2 separate regions of the Homo sapiens genome follow, and region 2 is linked to region 1. The links come from fine-mapping of genetic effects on gene expression. A gene starts in region 1. The other region holds a variant in brackets. All regions are shown on one strand. Distances are between the middles of the regions.

Region 1 (2,902 bases):
CAGGAGTTCAAGACCAGCCTGGCCAACATGGTGAAACCCCAACTCTACTAAAATACAAAAATTAGGCTGGGCACAGTAGTGGTTCACGCCTGTAATCCCAGCAGTTTGAGAGGCCGAGGTGGGCGGATCACTTGAGGTCAGGAGTTTGAGACCAGCCTGGCCAACATGGTGGAACCCCGTCTCTACTAAAAATACAAAAATTAGCCTGGCATGGTGGCGAATGCCAGTAACTGTGGTCCCAGCTACTGGTGAGGCTGAGGCAGGAGAATCACTTGCACCGGGGAGGTGGAGGTTGCAGTGAGCTGAGATTGTGCCACTGCACTCCAGCCTGGGTGACAGGGCGACACTCCATCTTAAAAAATAAATAAATAAATAAATAATTTTTAAAAATGAAAGTAGTTACATTTAGTAGAAGTCACACTTTCTGATTTTTGGTTTTGCGTGTTTCCTACACGCAAATGCATAGTTTCCTACCCACCACTATGATCAAGATATGATTTAAAGAAAAAATAAAACAGGCCGGGTACGGTGGCTCACGCCTGTAATTCCAGCACTTTGGGAGGCCAAGGTGGGCGGATCACCTGAAGTCGGGAGTTCGACAGCAGCCTGACCAACATGGAGAAACCTTGTCTCTACTAAAAATACAAAATTAACCGGGCGTGGTGGCGCATGCCTGTAATCCCAGCTACTCGGGAGGCTAAGACACGAGAATCGCTTGAACCCAGGCGGCGGAGGTTGCGGTGGGCCGAGATCGCGCCATTGCACTCCAGCCTGGGCAACAAGAGCGAAACTGTCTCAAAAATAAATAAATAGATAAATAATAAATAAAACCAAAGCAAAATAAAAAAGATATGAATTAGTTCCTTCATTTCCAATGCCCCCCATGCCTCTTGGTGGTCAACCCAGCCCCTAGGAGCCACTGATCTATGTTGCCATAGTCTTACCTGTGACATGTCATAGAAATGGGATAACCCTGCCTTTTGAGCCTGGCTTCTTTGCACTGCAGCCAATTTTCTCTTGCTGAGATTATCCAGCTAAATTTACATAGGATCTGGCCCGGCACAGCGACCCCTTTCGGCCAGGTGCGAAACGGCAGGCCCGACGGTCCCCACGCAGCTCCTAAGAGGATCAACAGAGGGCGCAGTGCGCCCGGAACGCCCAGCCCCTGCGAAAGCGGAGGCTCCTCTCTCGGTCCCTGCGGGACAGCTCAGTTCTCATAGGCCAGAGGCGTGGCTTGGGGGCGGGCCAGGGGAATCCCACCTCCCCTTGCATGCTCAAGCGCGCCGGGCGATGGTAGGCGGTCTCACCCGCAGGCGGTGGAAGTCAGGGGCGCGGCTGCGGCCCCGCCCCTTCCCGGACTCGCCCCGCCCGTCCCCTCGCCGCGCATGTTCCCAGACGCCTCAGGCCATGGCGCGCGCGCTCCCGCCAGCACGCACGTCTGGCCCCGCCCCCGCGCCTGGCGCCCGCGCGCTCTCTCGCACGATCTGCTCCCGGACTCCTTCAGCGCGCTGCCTGCCTGCCCAGGGCCTTCCCGGAGAGCAGGTGACGGCGGCCTCCGGGCATGGAGCTCGCGCTGACGAAAGGTTCTGGAAGCCGCCGTAAAAAGTAATCAAGAAACGGGTGACAGGACTTTTCGTAAGACATTTAATTTTTACCCAGAGTATCCGAAACATTGCCGTGTCAATCTCAGTGCGATGGGAGACTGCCGGCCCCAAGGAGCTGCTCGTCCTTCTGCCGAGTTCCGGCCCGGACCCGCGGAGGAGGAGACCGCCGCGCCGGAGCTCGGACCTGACGTTTTTGTGAAGCACAGGGGGCGTGGGAGGGACCGGATCAATGCGGCACTCAACAAAACCTGTTTTTAAAAGAGTCGTGCTGTGTCGCCCAGGCTGGAGTGCAGTGACGCGATCTCGGCTCACTGCAGCCTCCACCTTCCGGGCTCAAGCGAGCCTCCCGCCTCAGCCTCCTGAGTAGCTGGGATTACAGGCACACACCTCCAGCTCGGCTGTTTTATTTATTTATTTTTTTTTTGAGACGTAATTTAGCTCATGTTGACCAGGCTGGAGTGCAGTGGCGCGATCTGGGCTCACCGCAACCCCCGCCTCCCGGGTTCAAGCGATTTTCCGCCTCAGCCTCCTGAGTAGCTGGGGTTGCAGGCATGCGCCACCACGCCCGGCTAATTTTGTACTTATAGTAGAGACGGGGTTTCTCCATGTTGGTCAGGCTGGTCTCGAACTCCCGACCTCAGGTGCTCCGCCCGCCTTGGCCTCCCAAAGTGCTGGGATTACAGGCGTGAGCCACCTCTCCAGGGCCAAAAGCCTTTTATTGGAGTACTGGGTAACACATTCAGAAGAGGGTGCATAGCTTAGGCGCTCCGTGAATTTTCACAAACTGAACATACACCCAGGTAGCCAACACCCCCAGCAAGCCCCAGAATCCCCTCATGCTTGCTTTCTGCCACTATCAAGCAGTTTGCTTTCTTTCAGATTTTTAAGTTTTGAAATAATTATTGAAATGTACAGGGAGAAGTCTGGGTTGGTGGTTCTAACCTGTAGTCTCAGCTACTAGAGAGGCTGAAGGGGGAAGATGGCTTTAGCCCTGGATTTCTAGACTAGCCTGGACAACATAGCAAGACCTCATCTCTATTTGTTTTTGAGACAGAGCCTCGGTCTGTCACCCATGCTGGAGCGCAGTGGACCTCCGCCTCCCGGGTTCAAGTGATTCTTCTTTCTCAGCCTCCCGAGTTATTTGGGATTACAGGTGTGCGCCACCACGCCCAGCTAATTTTTTTGTATTTTTAGTAGAGACGGGTTTCACCATGTTGGCCAGGCTGGTCTTAAACTTCTGACTTAAGGTGATCTGCCCGTCTCGGCCTCCCAAAGTGCTGGGATTACGACGTCAGCCA
Region 2 (2,902 bases), 82 kb before region 1:
AAGAGTTTCCGTTCGTCGGGGGCAGTGCCGGGAGCTGCCGGGGGGGCACCACAACTGTCCGCAGGATGGGCTCAGTTCACCACAGCCGGTTTGAGCAGCACCGAGCCCGGCGGGATGACCACCCAGCCAGGGGCCAACGCCTCTGGGCTGCTGGCAGCTGAGTTGACGCCCGTGGACAGGTCCAGCACGGTGCCTGGCAGCAGGGGGAGTCCATCGGGGCTTGGCCGGGAGCAGCTGCTCTCCGTCCTTTCAAGGGGCGTCTTGTGGCCCTCCATGCCCAGGGCCCTGGTGGGCACCGACCCACGCCCCTTCTCCCCCTCGGCCTTGCCACCAGCTGCGCCAGCAAGGAGGGAGACCACAGGCAAGCCCAGTCCGCCAGCCCCAAAGGGCGAGGGCAGCAGCGGGTTCTTGGCCAGATTGAGAGGCAGGACGGGGCCTGGCAGCCCAGGGCCCATGCCCCCCCCACCCCCACTGCCCCCACCGTTGCCACAGGCCAGGGCACTGAGGTCAAGGGGGCCGGGGGCCAGGGGTAGGGGTAAGCCGGGCAGGCCAGGGCCTCCAAAGAGGGCAGCTGGGTTGGGGATGATGATCTGGGCCCCACTGACATAGGGGCCGCCGTCGGGGGCGGGCAGTGGCGGCTTGGGGGGTGGGCGCAGCTGCAGGAGCTCTTGCTGCTCGTGGGACACAAAGTGGCCATGGGCCTTGATGTGCTTGCGCAGTGAGCTGGGGTCCGTGTAGCGCTTGTGGCAGCCGGGCATCTTGCAGTAGTAGGGCTTGTCCACATAGTGGGTGCGCGTGTGCTTAAAGCGGTCACTGGAGTTGGAATAGCGCTTGTTGCAGCCCTCGTAGGGGCAGACGTAGGGCTTCTCACCTGCAGGGTGGTGCAGTGCAGTGCCGCCATGAGGGGTCTCTCCCCTTCCTGGGTCTCACCCCATGCACTCAACATTTCCCCGGGCCAAGCACTCCCTGGGAACATAGATGCCCCAATTCTGGGGGCAGGGGGCATCCCCAGCACATGGCATGAGATCTGCCCCCAGGCAGGGCACAGAGGCTGAAAACTCAGCCTGGTTGA[C/T]TCCAGCTCTGCCTAGCCTCGCCCTGCACCCTCTGCTACAGAGGATGTGCCTTTCAGCAGCAGAACATGGCCTTGGAGGCCGGGCCCGGTGGCTCACGCCTGTAATTTCAGCACTTTGGGAGGCCAAGGCAGGCAGATCACTTGAGGCCAGGAGTTCCAGACCAGCAGGGCCAACATGGTGAGACCCCGTCTCTACTAAAACTACGAAAACTAGCTGGGTGTGGTGGCAGGTGCCTGTAATCCCAGCTACCTCAGAGGCTGAGGCAGGAGAATCACTTGAACCTGGGAGGCAGAGGTTGCAGTGGGCCAAGATCATGCCACTGCACTCCAGCCTGGGTGACAGAGTGAGTCTGTCTCAAGAAAAAAAAGACACCATGGCCTTGGAGATCACATCCTGGCACGAGGCGCCCAGCGTGGGCCTGGCCACAGGGAGTGCTGCCTGGGCGCTACTGCCCTCACTCAACAAATGGCTGAAGGTTCACCAGGCATCTTCTGCTGCCCTGGCCAGAGCAGGGGGCCACATGTAGTGACTGACCTCCTGATACATGGCTCTCCACCTGGAGATGTGCTGCCAGGGTGAAATAAACACCAGGAAAAAACATACACATCAGCTCCTTGAGGCTTTGTCATGAAATGAAGAACTTCAATATCTCACTGATTTGTCTTTAATAATGAATTGATAACACGTTGGATGTACCGGGGTCAACGAACCATATTACAATTAATTTCACCCATTTATTTTTGCTGTGTTTTATGCAGCGATTAGGAAATGTAAAATTATGTCTGTGGCTCTGACAACCAGAGCTGTCCTGGTATGGGCCTGGGCTGTAGTGAGGAGTGAAGCCGACCTGGCCTCTGCGATCACAGAGGTGGCATTAGTCAGAAGATACCCACGGGAACCAGGAAATGGCATTGGTGCTCCAAGAGCAGGTGCTGGGTGGGGGTCTGACCCCCAGGGGATGCTTCCCCTAGCAAACTGCATTGGAAAAGGGACCCCTGGGCGATGACATCAACCCTTATCTCTGAGGCCCGGGATTTACTTAACAGTCCCCTCCCCCTGGGGACCTGCCCAGCCGGTCTCAGCTGAGCGCCCCCTTCATGGGCCAAGCCGCCCGGCCCCGGCCTCTTACCTGTGTGCGACCGGTTGTGGATCTTCAGGTTCTCCAGGCGGGAGAAGCTCTTGCTGCAGGTCGGACAGCGGTGTGGCTTCTCGTTGGTGTGTGTGCGGATGTGGATGAGCATCTTGTACCTGCTCCAGGGAGGGCGGGGGGCACGGCTCAGCTCACTGGAGACCCCAGTCCTCCCTCTACCCCTCTCTCCCCCACCTCACCTGGCGTTGAAACCTCGGCCATGGCGGGCGCAGCCCTCCCAGTGGCAGCAGTACCCCGCATCCTTCTCGGGCTTGACATGGTAATCGTTGACATGGTCCACCAGGTCTTGCAGGAGCTCAAAGAGCTGGTTACACTGCGGAGGATGGGAAGTGTTCTGAGCCCATGCGGGGTGACCTGCCCCAGACTCCACACTACTCTTGCTGGCCCCCACTCACCTTGGCCCAGCGACACACCAGCTGCTTGGGCAGGGGCAGGTCTGGCGAGAGGCACTTGTCCTTGGGAGGGGTAAGGAAGGAGGAGGCAGGCAGGTGCAGGGCCCCCCCGGAGCCGAGGGGCAGGAAGAACTGGAAGGAGCTGGGGACACCATCCAAATAGCGCAGTGGCTGGAAGTCCTGGGGTGCGAGGGGAGGGCTAGTCAAGGTCCTGCTGGCCCAGAGCCCCCCGTCCCATCGGTAGTGGACTGAATGGTGTCCCCAAACAGAGACATTCAGGTCCTCTT

Evidence for each region.
Region 2: its variant is fine-mapped to the expression of LINC01569 in monocytes after R848 (Quach 2016, PIP 0.95).

The regions. Positions count from the first base shown.
Region 1 is chr16:4,252,380-4,255,281 of GRCh38, reverse strand. It overlaps LINC01569 (long intergenic non-protein coding RNA 1569), which reads left to right and starts at 1,493. Exons shown (of 3, transcript NR_039999.1): 1 at 1,493-1,635. RefSeq lists a silencer at 1,225-1,484 and enhancers at 1,715-1,924, 1,989-2,611.
Region 2 is chr16:4,334,694-4,337,595 of GRCh38, reverse strand. GLIS2 (GLIS family zinc finger 2) reads right to left here. Exons shown (of 7, transcript NM_032575.3): 4 at 2,619-2,795; 5 at 2,403-2,536; 6 at 2,203-2,321; 7 at 1-871. The coding sequence ends at 72. Among named protein-coding and RNA genes, the nearest start is that of GLIS2-AS1, 7.8 kb to the right of the region's middle. The variant C/T (reference allele first, on the strand shown) is at 1,073.